Linked DNA regions of Homo sapiens: region 2 is linked to region 1. Evidence: fine-mapped expression QTL. A gene starts in region 1. The other region holds a variant in brackets. All regions are shown on one strand. Distances are from middle to middle.

Evidence for each region.
Region 2: its variant is fine-mapped to the expression of SCP2 in whole blood (TOPMed, PIP above 0.99).

What each region holds. Positions count from the first base shown.
Region 1 is chr1:52,921,213-52,930,423 of GRCh38, reverse strand. SCP2 (sterol carrier protein 2) reads right to left here and starts at 3,148. Exons shown (of 16, transcript NM_002979.5): 1 at 2,959-3,148. The coding sequence starts at 3,027. ECHDC2 (enoyl-CoA hydratase domain containing 2) reads left to right here and starts at 8,684. Exons shown (of 10, transcript NM_001198961.2): 1 at 8,684-8,871. The coding sequence starts at 8,751. It also overlaps the pseudogene LOC112268226 and the pseudogene LOC100652967. RefSeq lists enhancers at 2,726-2,815, 2,826-2,885, 2,538-3,053, 8,299-8,981 and silencers at 3,106-3,385, 8,708-8,937, 8,786-8,964.
Region 2 is chr1:53,023,084-53,031,083 of GRCh38, reverse strand. It overlaps SCP2 (sterol carrier protein 2), which reads right to left. Exons shown (of 16, transcript NM_002979.5): 13 at 3,013-3,115. Among named protein-coding and RNA genes, the nearest start is that of PODN, 35 kb to the left of the region's middle. The variant G/A (reference allele first, on the strand shown) is at 3,360.

The DNA.
Region 1 (9,211 bases):
TCAAACCCTGGGCTCAAGAGATACACCCACCTCAGCCTCCTAAAGTACTGAGATTTCAGGCATGAGCTACCACATCCAGCCAAGCAGCAATTTTTTTTTTTTTTAAGATATACTTTAGGGATACCAAGAGTTCATCACATGTAATAAGCGTTGCTTTAACAAATTGTTTCAGTTGTTACAAATAAGTTTTGTATGTGTGTACTGGATTGTGATGTAAGATGTATTTCATGAAATTACCATACATAAAAGTACTAGAAAACTGAAGTGCTAAATTACATGTTCTGACTATAAGGTCACCAGAATTTCAAAAAAGGTGACCAGTGTAACTTAGAGTAGTCTGAGGAAGTTTTAAGAAGGTATGGGACTTAGCCTAGTTCTTGAAAGATAAGTAGAATTTAAGTAGATGAAAAGAGGGTATATCAGGAGATAGGCAGCATAAGTGAAGAGGCTTGCTGTCAGCCAGACGGCAGCTGTGACTTAGTTGTGTTAAAACCTGTTGACGGCCAGGTGCGGTGGCTCACGCCTGTAATCCCAGCACTTTGGGAGTCCGAGGCGGGTGGATCACGAGATCTGGAGGTTAAGACCATCCTGGCTAACACGGTGAAACCCCATCTCTACTAAAAAATACAAAAAATTAGCCGGACGTGGTGGTGGGCACCTGTAGTCCCAGCTACTCGGGAGGCTGAGGCAGGAGAATGGCGTGAATCCAGGAGGCGGAGCTTGCAGTGAGCCAAGATCGCGCCACTGCATTCCAGCCTGGGCGACAGAGCAAGAATCTGTGTCAAAAAATAAAATAAATAAAAATACAAAAAGTAGCTGGGCATGGTGGCACACACCTGTAATCCCACCTACTTGGGAGGCTGAGCAGAAGAATCACTTGAACCTGGGAGGCAGAGGTTGCAGTGAGCTGAGATCGCCCCACTGCACTCCAGACTGGGGGACAGAGTGAGACTCTGTCTCAAAAAATAAAAATAAAGTATTATGATAAATTATAACAGTAATATATGGTAGAAATGAGACCCATCTAGTAGTAAGTAGTGAGACCCTGTCTCTACAAAAAAAATTTTTTTTTAATTAGCCAGGTATGGTAGAATGCCTGTAGTCCTAGCTACTCGGTAGGATCGCTAGAGTCCAGGAGTTCAAGGCTGCAGTGAGCTATGATTGCACCACTGCCTTCCCATCTGGTTGACAGAGCAAAACTCCGTCTTCCAAAAAAAAAAAAAAAAGTGTTACAGTGTTGTCTAGTCAATATTTCTCCCTCCTCCATCAAACTCTGTCCCAAGGTGCAGAAGACCAGACCTATAGCAAAGTACACTGGCCAGATAGGCACATCATTAATGGCACTACCCAAACTCCTCACCACTTTCCTCTGGACTGTAACACCTCCCCGACCTCTACCTCCCAACTTGAGGAAAAAGGAATACATCTATTTCCCAAAGGTTTAGACAACTGTGCTTTTCCATACAGCACATATAATCAGGCATTCAGCAGCCAGAGGAAGGTTTGACTGCATTAATACCTTACTTCGAAAGATCCTACTGTCCACCTGTGTTAGAAGCCTCCCCTTCTGTGAAACACTAGGATGATGTCCTTCCGCTTCATAAGGTATTGGTCCACTTTTCCATTTCCATGGATATTTTTTGTTTTTGTTGAGACAAGGACTGACTCTATGGCCCAGGCTGGGGGTGCAGTTGCGTGATCTCAGCTCACTGCAACCTCCATCTCCCAGGCTCAAGCAATCCTCCCACCTCAGCCTCCCGAGTAGCTGGCGTGTGCTACCATGCCCGACTAATTTTCGTATTTTTAGTAGAGACGGGGTTTCACCATGTTGGCCAGGCTGGTCTCGAACTCTTGACCTCAGGTGATCCACCCGCCTTGGCCTCCCAAAGTGCTGGGATTACAGGCGTGAGCCACCGGCCCCGGCCTATTTACATGTTGGACTGAATTAGGTACGCTCAGCCCACTGGTAAAATAATAAACATTTTAGGGCTGTTTTCTCAGAAATAGAACTCTCCCTAGGAACTCTTTCACAAAGCATATCCATTTAGTATTGTTCAACTAACATTCACTGAGGGTCTTCAAGCATCAGGAACGTTCAGGGCGAGGGGCACAGCAGTGAATAAGCCAGGTACCCAGTCTAGAGGAGCTGCCATGCTAAGAGGGCGCGCAGACGCCTATGAGCTTTAGTACTGCCCGGTACTGCCGAGCACAGTAAGTGCAGGACAGAGGTAAGCACAGTGCAAGGCTCTAGGGGAAAGTCAGGAGGATCCGAGGCGTCCTGGAGAAGATCCGATCTGAACGGATCCTTTCAGGATGCACAAAAGTTAACAGGTGAAGATACACGGTACAAACAGAACAGAAGCAAAGCAACAGAGGCATCAGACAACTGCGTCCGGGGAGAAACGAAAGGCAGTTTGGCATTAAGGAGCATGCGGGCGATGAGGGGAAAACGGCCGTGGGAGCCTGCGGCGTCCGGGTCCCAAGCAGTCACTGGAGGGACAGAGGGAGGCCGGAATCTGCCACTCGGGCCGAGGCGCTGGGCATCAGGAGCGTTTCTCCTCGCCATCCACATCTGGAGCTGTCTCTGTGAGGGCTCCTGTGGGGGCTGTTCCTGGGAGGGCCGAGCAGGCGGCATTCGCGACCTGCCTCCCTCCGGGGCAAGCCAGCCCACACACCTCGGGACTCCGCTCAGAATCTAAAGAGGTGAGATCCTTGGATTATCTCGGGGCTGCTTCATGAACTCTGACCAGAAGAAAAGGGAAGGAGGAAGCAGAAGGCCGCAGGAACCAGCCCGAGACGCTATGACCCCAGAGATTCCGCAGAGTACAAGCCACCAAGTCGCCACGCCGATGACCCACGCGCGGAGCAGTCGAAGCTAGGAGACCGGAGGGACAGAGAAACCCAGGCACCGACCGCCCCCGAGCCTCAGAGGGCCAGCAGGGCCGCTGCTCGGTTTACCTTGGTCATGCCAACCCCCACCACGAACACCCGGCGCAGGGTCGCAGGCTCCCACGGGGAAGAGGACATGGCTGCACCAGTGCGGGACCGGGGCGGGCGCCGCGGACGACTGCCGGCACTGACAGGCGGAGACTGCACCAGAGCTCCCTGAAGCCCGAAGCCAGGGCCGCGGGCGGCAACACAGGCGCGTGAGAGTGCGCGTGCGTAGGGGCAGGAGGAGGGGGCGGGGTGGGGCGCGTCCTGTGGGGCGGGGAGCGTTCTCTAGCCCTTAGGCAGCCGAATCCCTAATTTGCGGACTTGGGCATGGGACTGAGTCAACCTGTCCCCATCTCTGATCCTGTGCTTAGGTTCTGTACGGTGAGCGGGAGTAGGCTTGCAGTGGGGCCTAAGACTGAGAGGAGGGGTTGGCCGGAAAGCGGACTCATGAAAGGTGACCCTGAGGAGAGCCGTTGGGGTTCGTGTTGGAATTGGCCTGTGTCCTGTTAGCGGTGGCAGTTGAGAGTGAATTCATGAATTTAAACTCACAGGACACCAAGAAAGCGGGGATGGGCAGGATCTCACACATGGATACAATGTCTAAATCAAAAAACCCAGGCTCCGTCACCAGCTGCGTGACCTTTTTAATCTTGTGAACAAAAGTTCTCCGAAAAGGAATTTGGAAGACAGAGACTTTATTCCAGCAAACCGGGGAGAAACAGCCTTCCATGTTTATTGGAGACCGGAGTCTCGCTCTGTCGCCCAGGCTGGAGTGCAATGCCGCGAACTCGGCTCACTGCAGCCTCCGCCTCCCAGGTTCAAGCAATCCTCCTGCCTCAGCCTCCCGAGTATCTGGGATTACAGGCGCGCGCCACCACGCCCCGCTAATTTTTGTATTTTTAGTAGAGATGGGGTTTCGCCATGTTGGCCAGGCTGGTCTGGAACTCCTGACCTTAGGTGATCTACCCACCTTGGCCTCCCAAAGTGCTGGGATTACAGGCGTGAGCCACCGCGCCCGGCTCCCCGGTTTATTTTATCTTATGTAAAAATGCAGATTCATTGAGCTAGATGAATGCATAAGTGACTATTTCTCTACCCCCCTCACATGTGAAGGTTGATCAAAGACTCAGAAGAATGCAACCGTTTGCCTCTTATCTACCCACATCTTTTTAAAATTTATTCATCTTTCCCCAATATCTGCCCCTTCCCCTATAAAAACTGAAGCCCTCAAAATCATCTTTGGAGAAAGGCACGGACCTGTCTCCAAAGATGATGCACGTCCTTAAACTTGGCAAAATTAACTTCTAAATTAATTGAGATCCGTTTCATATACTTTTCGGTTTGCAGTATCAGCATTTAGAAAGGCTCTCCTAGAAGATTCTAAGGATTGCTTCTTGGCCATTTGGCTAAGATCAAGTTTAGGAGATTCTAAGAAGCCCCCTCTGTGCTAAGTAAAGAACTACTGAGCTAGGACTAGACCAACTTAGTAAAATTGCTGCGCTCAGTGATGCACGCCTCCCATCTGCTCAGGAGGCTTCGGCAGAAAGATCACTTGAGCCTGGGAATTCAAGGCTACAAATGTGCTATGATTACACCTCTGAATAGCCACTGCACTCCAGCCTGGGCAACATACCAAGACCACGTCTCTAAAAAACCAAAACGAAACAAAAAAAAAAAAAAAAGAAAAACAAACACAAATCAGGGCACTGACATGTACAGTTGTTTCTTGAAACTGATGGACTGACAAGACAGCAATATGATTGGTGGATCAGACAAAGTTACCAACCTAATAGAACAACAAGTCCTAAGGTCAAGATTAATTGTTATGTAACAAATCCTGGCTGTCCACTGGATATTGCTTTCAAAATAAGAGTCCATAGAGGGCAGAGGGGATAGATAGTAATATAAAAGGTATTTGTTAATACCGAAAAGACTGAGAAAAAACACTTCCCTTTCCAATGTGAAGGACTAAATAATCCAAACTTTTCCCACTATAAAACACAGACTTTTCTAAGTCATTGGATGTGGGGCTCTGGGGTAGCCTGAGCTGTTTGTCCCACACCAAGATGCTTCAAAACATTATTAAAAATGTTTGGATCCCCATGAAGCCCTATTATAACCAAGTTTATCAGGAGATTTGAGTAGGAATGGGGTTAATGAGCCTCATCATTTATAAAATCAGGAGTACTGATAAAATAAGTAAAATATTGAAAGCTTCTCCACCTGCTTATGGTCATCACTAACCAGCTTCACTTAGCATGCACATGAAATGAAACATTAGTCGACCTGTGAATTTAAGCAAGCTATGTTAGAAAGGAACCTGGAAAATCACTGTACACTTATATAAGTACCACTTACTTTGTGGCATGAATAAGTATACCAAAAAAAAACACCCAGAAATGCCAGATAAAATACAATAAATATCATTTTAAGCTGGGTGTGGTGGTACGAGACTGTAATCCCATCTACTTGAGGAGCTGAGGCAGAAAGGCTGCTTGAGTCCAGGAGTTCAAGGCTGCAGTGAGCTACGATTATGCCTGTGAATAGCCACTGCACTCCAGCCTGGACAGCATAGTGAGACCTTTTCTGTTAATACAAAAAGACAAAAAGCAGCGAGGCACAGTGGCTCATGCCTGTAATCCCAGCACTTTGGGAGGCCAAAATGGGAGGATTGATTGAGCCCAAGAATTCAAGACCAACCTGGGCAACATAGCTCCCTATCTCTAAAAAAAAAGAAGAAAAAACAAGAAAAATCTTTTTAAATGGGTGGATGCCAGGCATGGGGGCTCACACCTGTAATCCCAGCACTTTGGGAGGCTGAGGTGGGAGGATCACTTGAGGCCAGGTGTTTGAGACCAGCCTGGCAACATAGGGAGACCTCTGTCTCTACAAAAAATTTAACAATGAGCCAAGTGTGGTGGCCCACTCCTGTAGTCCCAGCTACTCGGAAGGCTGAGACGGGAGGATCCCCTGAGCCCAGGAGTCTGAGGTTGTAGTGAACTGACTGCACCACTGTACTCCAATGTGGGCAACAGAGTGAGACCCTGTCTCAATAAAATAGAATACAATAAATGCATGGAATATGGAGGAGGGAAGGTTTTTCTTTTAATCTTATACCCAATTATAGTTTGTATGTTTTGTTTTTGCTTCTTTTTTTTTTTTAAGACAGAATCTCACTCTGTTGCCCAGGTTGGAGTGCAGTGGTGTGATCTCAGCTCACTACAACCTCCACCTCCTGGGTTCAAGCGATTCTTGCACCTCAGCCTCCTGAGTAGCTGGGATTACAGCTGCCCACAACCACGCCTGGCTAATTTTTGTATTTTTAGTAGAGACAGGGTTTCACCATGTTGGCCAGGCTGGTCTTGAACTCCTGACCTCAGGTGACCCACCCACCTCAGCCTCCTAAAGTGCTGGGATTACAGGCATGAGCCACCGGGCCTGGCTAGTTTGTATGTTTTGATTTTGTGTATATATTAGTTTTATTTTTGCTAAGGCATGTTTTTAATTTTTGTTATTGTGCTTTGTTTTCATTTTCATTATTTATTTTGAGTAAGTTATACTTAAAACAAAAATCAAGATTCAAAAAGTATAAAAGGGGCCAGGCATGGTGGTTCACACCTGTAATCCCAGCACTTTGGAAGGCCAAGGTGGACAAATCGCCTGAGCTCAGGAGTTCGAGACCAACCTTGGCAACATGGCAAAACCCCGTCTCTACAAGAAATACAAAAATTAGCCAATGTTGTGGCATGTACCTGTGGTCCCAGCTACTCAGGAGGGTGAGGTGGAAGGATCACCTGAGCCCGGGAGGCAGAAGCTGCAGTGAGCCAAGATACTGCCACTGCACTCCAATCTGGGCAACAACAACATCCTGTGTCCAAAAACGTATAACAGGTCAAACCGTAAAACTTGTCTCTCTTACCCTTATTCCCAGCCTCTCGGTTCTTCTTCCCTATCCTTCCAAAGATGTTTTATGTAAATACAATCAAATATACACATGCATACTCTTATCCCCCTTGTTAACACAAATTTTTGTTTTCTTTATTATTTCTTTCAATAGAGGTGGGGTTTTGCTATGTTGGCTAGGTTGGTCTTGAACTCCTGGCCTCAAGCAATCCTCCTGTCTCGGCCTCCCAAAGTGCTAGGTTCATGAGCATGAGCCACCAGACCCGGCCAAATTTTAGCTTTCTTTACACACTATTCTGCATTTTGACTTGTTTCATATACCAATAGATTTTGAAGATTGTTTCATATCAATGCATAAACAGTTTCCTGTGTTTTGTTATAGCTGCATAGTATTCAGATTATTGATGTACCTTTTTTTTTTTTTTAAGTAGAGATAGGGGCTTGCTATATTTCCCAGGCTGGTTTCAAACTCCTGGCTTCCAGGGACCTACCTGCCTTGGCCTTCCAAAGTGTTGGAATAATAGGGTGAGCCACCACACACAGCCCCATAATTTATTTAACCAACCCTCTATTGATGGATATTGAGACTGTGATATAGTTTGGGTGTTGGATCCCTCCAAATCTCACGTTGAAATATGATTCCCAATGTTGGAGGTGGGCCCTGTTGGGAGGTGACTGGATCATGGGGACAGATCCCTTGTGAATGGTTTAGCACCATCCCCTTGGCGATAAACTGGGACCTCCCCACCTAATTTTCTTGTTCCTATTCTCGCCATGTGACATGCTGGATCCCTGTCACCTTCAGCCATGATTGTAAGCTTCCTGAGGCCTCACCAGAAGCACATGACAGCACCATGTGCTTCCAGTCTTTTGCTATTATAAACAATGCTGCAATGTACAGCCATGAACACGTGTCATTTCACAGCTGTGTGGATTTATCTGTAGGTTAAATTTCTAAAATTGGAATTTCTGGGGCAATGAGCTTGTGCATTTATAATTTTGATATAAATTACCAGTTGCTTTTCATTTAAAGACATTCACATCAGCAATGTGAGAGTGCTTTGTATATACTGTGTTTAAGAGAATAATTTTTTTTTTTGGGACGCAGTTTCGCTCATTGCCCAGCCTGGAGTGCAGTGGCGCGATCTCAGCTCACTGAACCTGTGCCTTCCGAGTTCAAGTGATTCTCCTGCCTCAGCCTCCCAAGTAGCTGGGATTACAGGCGCCCGCCACCACGCCCAGCTAATTTTTTTGAATGTTTAACAGAGACAGGGTTTCGTCATGGTGAAACCCTGCCTCTACTAAAAATACAAAAAAAATTAGTTGGGCGTGGTGGCGCGTCCCTGTAATCCCAGCTACTTGGGAGGTTGAGGCAGGAGAATCGCTTGAACCCGGAGGCGGAGGTTACAGTGAGCCAAGATCAAGGCACAGCACTCCAACCTGGGCGACACAGCGAGACTCCGTCTCAAAAAAAAAAAAAAAAAAAAAAAGTGAGGCGCAAATGGGAGGTGAAGCAGTGAGGTTCGCAAGTGTAGACACGCTCAAGGGACTCATTAAATGTCATTTCATTTAAAAAATGAAATTGAGCATATGTGCAAGCAAGGTTCACACACCCCATTTAATCTTCACACCACCACGGGGTAGTCACTATTATCCCCATTTTACAGGATTAAAACACTGACGCTGGGAGGTTGACAGAGTTACACCAAATCACACAGAGGAGCTGGGCTTCCCCCGACCTCCTCCGCTCAAGTCTCCCTGTCCCCGGGAGGTGCGGAAGGAGGCAACAGACGCTTGGCCCATAGGTGGAGCAATTGGCGAAGGCTTCGCCCGACGCCGGAACTGCGAGCTCTCAGCGGGAGCCGAGACGGTGCAGGGCCGGAGAAGCACCTTCACTCCCAGCCTGCGCCCCGATGCTGCGCGTTCTGTGCCTCCTGCGCCCCTGGAGGCCCCTTCGGGCCCGCGGCTGCGCTTCCGACGGGGCGGCCGGGGGCTCAGAGATCCAAGTGCGCGCCCTGGCGGGTCCGGACCAAGGTAAATGTGCAGTTCCGGGGCGGCGCATGACGCGACTGGGACTAGGCCGGAGGCAGCGGGGGACCGGCAGGTGGGCCGCTCAGTGCGTTGAAGGATTCGATCCCCAGTCCCTCCCTCCCAGTTCTAGGCGCCCCAAACCGCTCCAGGCCTGAGAGGTGGGCGGCCGCCTTAGTGGCTCCAGACTCTAGCTGGGGGCGGGGGGCCTCTGGCAACCTCGGTCTCTTCAAAGGCCCTTTGGGGTCTTCCGACTGTGTGGAAGGGGGAGCGGGGTCCGCACGGGTAGGACTGGGCCCCGCGGCCCCCAGGCCAGGAGCGTTTAAGTGCGCGTTCCCCTCCCCCG
Region 2 (8,000 bases), 100 kb before region 1:
GTGTTCCTCTGCAGGAATATATTGGCAGCATTTTTAAAAACCAAAACTTTTAAGCCGAGACTTTATAGAGTGCAACTTCATTTTATAGGAACACTTGTAATGAAAGAAGTTCAAGAAACAATGAGATATTTTTTCCTACTAGGTTGGCAAAGCCTTTTTTTTTTTTTTTTTTTTTAATTTTTTTGAGGTGGAGTCTCGCTCTGTCACCCAGGCTGGAGTACAGTGGCGTGATCTTGGCTCACTGCAACCTCCGCCTTCCAGGTTCAAGCGATTCTCCTGCCTCAGCCTCTCTAGTAGCTGGGACTACAGCTATCTGGGACTGCGCCATCATGCCTGGCTAATTTTTATATTTTTAGTAGAGACAGGGTTTTGCTATGTTGGCCAGGTTGGTCTTGAACTCCTGACATCAAGTGATCCACCCGCCTCAGCCTTCCATAATGCTGGGATTACAGGGGTGTGCCACTGTGCCCAGCCCAGAGATTTTTTTAAAAACCAGCCAACATAGTATCAGAGGTGTGAAGTAAAAATAGTTAGTCTCCAACATAGCAAGACCCCATCTTTACAAAAATAAAAATAAATAAATGTTTTAAAAGGAAAAAATAGTCACTCTCATGAATTGGTAATGTTTGTAAGTTAGTACTCTCTTTCTGGTGGGTAGTTTGGCAATATGTATCAGCATACAAAATGCACGTAGCCAACCACCCAACAATTTTCCTCCTTTATTTATATTAAATTGATCATAGCTTAAATACTTAAATATGAGTGCAACAGGAAATTTATTACAGCACTGTTTTACTTGAAAATGTTAAATACAACCTGATATTCATCACAGGAAGCTACTTAAATTTTGACAAATACATATGAATACATACTATGTATTAAAAATGAGGGTAAACGGCCGGGCACGATGGCTCATGCCTGTAATCCCAGCACTTTGGGAGGCCAAGGTGGGAAGATGACGAGGTCAGGAGATAAGAGACCACCCTGGCAAATATGGTGAAACCCCATCTCTACTAAAAATACAAAAATTAGCTGGGTGTGGTGGCACGTGCCTGTAATGCCAGCTACTCGGGAGGCTGAGGCACGAGAATCGCTTGAACCCGGGAGGTGGAGGTTGCAGTGAGCCAAGATCGCGCCACTGCACTCCAGCCTGGGTGACAGAGCGAGACTTTGTTTCAAAAAAAAAAACAGGGGGTAAAGATTTAGATTTATGGCCATGGAACATAATGTCAAAAGAAAAACATAGGTTATAAAACAGGTAGCCCCATGTGGATGCATCCCAAGATGGTTGCAGGACAGGTCTGCAGCTTCTAGGCCAATGCCTGGCCCTGCTCTCCCTCAGGACGGTTGTAGATTATAATGAAAGTCCTGGGAATACTGGGTTCTTTCACAAGACACATCAGTTATATCACCTGTATTCCCATCCACAGTGCAATCATCTCAGATATTAAGTAGTCCTCTGGCCTACAATAAGGGTTATGAGATAAGCACAATGTTTGCCTTTCACACCATGGCTCTAACGTGAGTGAAATACAGTTTAAACATTCTATTTATTCCAGCCCACTTTGATCACCTTAATAGATGTGTAATTTGCATTGTGATTATGGCTGTAACCATGCCTTATACGGTCTCAGATCTAAAATCCATAATGAAATACATCCAGGCAGAGGCTCACGCCTGTAATCCCAACACTTTGGGGGGCCAAGGTGAAAGGATCACTTGAGCCCAGGGGCTCAAGGCTGCAGTGAGCCGTGATCATGCCACTGCACTCCATTCTGGGCGACAAAGTGAGACTCTGTTTCAAAAAAAAAAAAAAACAGAAAGAGATCCCAAGATTCTTCTAAGTTTAAAACAATGAAATAAATATCAATTTTGCGTGAAGAGAATAACTTTCTTTCTGGAGAGTTATTTTTAGATTGCCTTAGTATGATTATTACCTATCAAGAACTAATTATTGTATATAAAAATAGATCCGCATATATAGTATAATAAAAAACAACAGGTGTTGTGGTGGGCACGGTGGCTCACCCCTGTAATCCTAGCACTTTGGGAGGCCAAGGCGGGTGGATCACTTGAGGTCAGGAGTTCAAGACCAGCCTGACCAACATGGTGAAACCCTGTCTCTACTAAAAATACAAAAATTAGCCTGGCGTGGTGGTGGGTGCCTGTAATCCCAGCTACTCAGGAGGCAGAGGAACAAGAATCACTTGAACCCGGGAGGTGAAGGTTGCAGTGACCCAAGATCATACCACTGCACTCCAGCCTGGGTGACAGAGCAAGACACTGTCTCAGAACAAAACAAAACAAAAAACAATAGGTTTTTTTGACCCTAGGTTAAAACTGTAAGTTAATATACACAGAGAAAGATGTCTGAAAGAATGTTAACCACTGTTAACATTTCAGTAAACTCTGAGTGGCAGAATTTGGGGAGATTTTAAACTTTTGTTTAAAAGGTTAAAACAAAAGTATAGTATAAAATTTATACTATTCATAAACATATATTTCTGTATAGTATTTTTTAAATTAACATCATTTTTAAAACAAAAAAATTTTTTAACTACTTTAAGAAATCAAAACACAATTTCTTTTTACAAAGAATTTTGATATATATACAAAAAAGGCTCATTTTAAATATTATTCTTTGAAATGATTTTAAGTAAGACCGTTTTAATTCAAAGGAAATTACAGCAAAATAAATTAGAATCCCTTTATATTTGAACTTTGCCCATGACTGAATGACCCTCTGACAAAGAGGACCTAGAAAAGAGTGACAATTTTAACAGTATTTATTATAGTTCTTTAGCTCAAATCTGGAGATTCATACATTTCTGAAATGCATTCCTTTTAGAATTACAAGGAAGCCTTAATAGACACTCAGAAATCTAACTACACTCAATACTTGACAACATGATATAAATTTTCAATTGTACCACCTCGTGGCAACACCTGAAACCTGTGTCTGCTTCCTCTAGCCTCAAGGTCCTTCCTGGCAATATTTTACATAAATCTTACCTCTTCAAGTTTCTTCTCAATCTCCTTAAAAACAAGATTTGCCTTAAATCCATCACTTGCAGAGCTGGTTGGAACAGCTTCAATTTGATGAGTTCTAAAAGAACTGGGGAAAAGAAACTGTTTCAATTCATGGAGTCACATAGGTACTAGGTTTTTCAACATTTATAAAATAGTAATTTTCAAAATTTTCAAAAACCCTAAGAACAGAGATGTTGCAAATCTTATCCAAAGGAAATCTTTAGTAAGCATATAAAATAATTAAGCTTGGCCGGGCGCGATGGCTCAATGCCTATAGTCCCTGCACTTTGGGAGGCCGAGGCGAGTGGATCACCTGTAGTCGGGAGTTC[G/A]AGACCAGCCTGGCCACCATGGAGAAACCCCGTATCTACTAAAAATACAAAAATTAGCTGGGCATGATGGCGCATGCCTGTAATCCCAGCAACTCAGGAGGCTGAGGTAGGAGAATCGCTTGAACCTAGGAGGCGGAGGTTGCAGTGAGCCGAGATGGCACCATTGCACTCCATGCTGGGCAACAAGAGCGAAACTCCGTCATAAACAAAGAAACAATTAAGCTCTTCTTCTCATTTTTTCAACACATAATCAGCTCATTAGGAGCTAGAAGTTTTTCTTGAAAATACAGTAAACCAAAGAAGCTACCCTCATGAATCTTACATCCTAGTGGAGGAGACAATTTAGAAACAAAAAAATAAATAATATAGTTAGCCAGGCACAGTGGCTCACACCTGTAATCCTACACTTTGGGAGGCCAAGGCGGACAGATCGCTTGAGCTCAGGAGTTCGAGACCAGCCTGGGCAACATGTTGAAACCCCGTCTCTATAAAAAACACAAAAATTGGCCTGGTGTGGTGGTGCGTGCCTGTAGTCCCAGCTACTCAGGAGGCTGAGATGGAAGGATTGCTTGAGCCTGGGTGATGGAACCAGACCATTTCTAAATAAATAAGTTATTTATTAACCTATTATGGTGGCATGTGTCTGTAGTCCTAGCTACTCAGGAGGCTAAAGTGGAAGGATCACCTGAGCCTGGGAGATAGAGGCTGCAGTGAGCTATGATCACACCACTGCACCCCATCCTGGGTGACAGAGTGAGAACCTGTCAAAAAAAAAAAAAAAAAGTGCAGCAGTTGTTCAATAAGCATCTGTCTTTTTCTACCCCTCTCCTCTCATGTATGTCTCCCTGCAGTCCTCAAATCCATTTCTCCTTCCTCTTTCCCTTTTCCTTCTATTATTTCATACTTTTTCTCTCTCTCTTTCCCACAGGGACTCTGTCGCCCAGGCTGGGGTGCAGTGGTCCTGTCACAGCTTACTGTAACCTCGAACTCCTGGTCTCAGGCAATCTTGCCTCAGCCTCCCAAGTAAGCTGGGACTATAGGCGCATGCCACCATGCCCAGCTAATTTTTCAAATTTTTTGTAGAGACAGGGGCCTTGTTATGTTGCCCAGGCTGGTCTCAAACTCCTGGGCTCAATCGATCCTCCCACATTGGCCTCCCAAGGTGCTGAGATTACAGATGTGAGCCACTGTGCCTGGCCTCGTTTCATAAATATTTAATGACTTCTTGCTACATGCCAAGCAAGACATTTCAAAACACTGGGGATATGATAGTGAACAGATCAGACCCAGTCCTTGCACTCACTTAGTTTATATTCTTCCAGTGGAGGAGAAAAAGAAGTAAACACAAAATAACTGCAAACTGTACCAAGTACTTTGAAACAGGAGTAGGGTGACTATAGTTTACTATACATTTACATTTCTAAATAGCAAAAAGAGAATAATCAAAAGAGAATAATTCAAATGTTCCTAGAATAAAGAAAAGACAAATATTTAAGGTGATGGATATCCCAAGTATACTGATTTGATTTTCACAAATTACATGAATGTATTAAATTAGTACTTGTACCCTGAGACTATGTACATCAGTTATGCATCAATAAAAAATAATTTTAAATTTAAAAAAAAGGAACCTACTTTAGGAAGGACAGTCAAGGAATGACCTCTAAGACCTTATTAAAGGAAGAAAAGGAGCTAGCCATTCAAAGAGGAAACTGCAAAGATCCTGAGGGAGAAAGGAGTATGTTAAAAGAAAGTCAAATAAGACCAGAGTCTCTATAATACAGTAGGTGTGGGGAGAGTGACATGAAATGAAATTGGAGAACTAGGCAGGCCAAATGATGATGCAGGCAGGCCAAAGTAGGGAATTTGGAAATCCATAGAAATGATAACATGGAAGTGAAATTGTTTGATTTGTGATTATTCTTACAACAGTGTGCTGAACGAATGACGATGGAGAGAGGAGCAAGAGGAGTGGGCACTAGTTAGGAGGCTGTTGGAATAATCCAGATAGGAGGTGATGGTGGCCTGGACTACAGAGGCAGTCTGCCAGTAGATAGAGAGTGGGAATAGATTCAAAATAGAAATAGAATCCACAAGCCTTGCTGTGGGGGTGAGGGAGATACAAAGAGGAAAGGGCAAGGATTATCCAGGCATTTGGCCTGAATAACTGGGTGATGGAGAGGCCATTACGAGGACAAGGAGGAATGTAGTGGGAATAGAGGGGATCCAAGTTCTGTTTAAGGCACAGTAAGTATACTATTTTATAAAACAAGAAAGCCATGGATATGAGAGTCTGGAGCTCAGTGGAGAGGGCCAGCTAGAGATAAAATGGAGAAATCATCAGCATAGTGAAAGCATTTAAATCCCTGGGCAGGGACTGTAACAGAATTATAGAGAAACAAGAGAGTCCAGCACAATGCCCTTTAGACCTCCATTACTCAGAGTCAGGGACAGAAGGGAAAGCAGCAGCCAGTGATGCAAGAGGAAAACCAGCATGGTGTCATAGGAGCCGGGAGCAAGATTCCAGGAGGGAGGGGCAAACTGTCAAATGCTGCCACAAGGTCAAGTATCCACTAGATGTGCACATGGAGAGTACAGATGACCTGACCTTGACAAAAGCAGTTTTCAGTGGAGGGTGGAAGTCAGATTATAGTGAATTGAAGAGTGAATAGAAGAGGGAAATAGACACAGCGTGGCTCTTTTGAGACATTAGTCTTAGTGGAACAGTAAAATGAGGTGGTCTCTGGAGAGGAATGTGGTGGTATCAAGGAAGAGTTGTGGGATTTTTTTGGTGGGGGGGATAAAGATGACATCTTTATTTTCACTAATCTCTTAAAGAAATGTAGCATTTCTGGGCAGGCGTGGTAGCTCACACCTGTAATCCCAGCACTTTGGGACGCCGAGGCAGGTGGATCACCTGAGGTCAGGAGTTCGAGACCAGCCTGGCCAACATAGTGAAACCCCGTCTCTACTAAAAATACAAAAATTAGCCGGGCATTGTGGTGTGCGCCTGTAAACTCAGCTACTCGGGAGTCTGAGGCAGGAGAATTCGCTTGAACCCAGGAGACAAAGGTTGCAGTGAGCAGAGATCATGCCACTGCACTCCAGCCTGGGCAACAGAGCAAGACTCCATCTCAAAAAAAAAAAGAAAAAAAAAGAAAGAAAGAAATGTAGCATTTCCTTCTGGATGTGGGCATATGAGAGTCCTATAACTTTTAAAAAATATTTTATTTTCCAATTTTTTATTATGTTAAAATACACATAAAATTTACCATCCTAACCATATTTAAGTGTTCAGTTTAGTAGTATTAAATACAGTCATAATGTTGTGCAACCATCATCACCTTTCATCTCCATAACTCTTTTCATCTTGCAAAACTGAAACTCTACCCATTAAAGAGTAACTCCTCACTCCCCCCTGCTTCCAACCCCTGGCAACCACCATTCTACTTTCTGTCTCTATAATTTTGAATACTCTAGGTACCTCTAGGTACTATGATTCTAAGTGGAATCATATAGTATTTGTCTTTTTGTGACTGACATATCACTTGGCATAATGTTCTCAAGGATCATCCATCTTGCAGCATGTCAGGATTTTCAAAAAGGCTGGGTTTCATTTTAAGATGAACAAATCAGAACAGGTATGCCTGATGATGGTAAGGAACCTGGAAAAAGGAGATGGAAGGAGAAAAATCTTGTGGCCTGTGACAGGACGAGGAGACTCAAGCGAAGAAAGAGGATCAGATGGGTGTAATTCTCGTGTAGTGGGTCTGTAGGTCTTGGATGGAAGTTGAGGAAGTTTGGGTTTAATGGCTTCTATTTCTCAACAAAGTATAAGGCAAAGTAATCAGCAGAGAGTGAGGGTGAAAGGAAGGGTGTGGAGAGTCTAAATTGAAAAGAGAGCCTACTAGAGGAATCATATTAATATATGAACAGGGAATGGAACCTCATCTCCAGCAAGCAGACTCTGTGCAGTCCTCGTTGCACAGAATGCCACCTCACACTTCTATGCCTTTGCCACTGCTGCTCCCTGGGTCCAGAATACCTCCATCTTAGCAAACTCCATTTCTCCCTTCGAGACCCAGCCCTTTCAGGAAACTACTTTTCTGTGAAACCCTACTAAATGTCAACGGCTTAAGAGCAGATACCATACCTTTTCTTTAAAAAAAATCTCTGTATTGCCAGTTCCCAGCAAATCATAAGCATTTAGTGAATAGTGACTGAATGGAACTGAAGTTACCCTGAATTCTCCCTTGCCTAACTCCTAATTCCTTCCTGTTCCATTCAGAGCAGAATTATCTATGGTACAGTATATCGTCTTGGTCAAAAGTCTGAATATGTGACCTAAAATCAAGTAGCCACAGCTAGTTCTCCACAAGCCAATTTCATTTCATTGGTCCAATTTTTCAGTTACTTTTAATCATCATTGTGCCCTTTTCCAAACTTGCCACATCTTGCATGTTCCCAAAGGTCACAGGTGTGTCTTTTATCTTGCTTGTTTTGAAAAGCTCATGAAGTTAGTGATGAACCAACTTTTCATCCAGATTAAAAGTTAATATGTAAAGTTTTATCAATGTTTTCTGAAAACCCCTCATTCCTTAAAATTTATATATGTGCCCTGCTCTAAGAAAACTGAATATA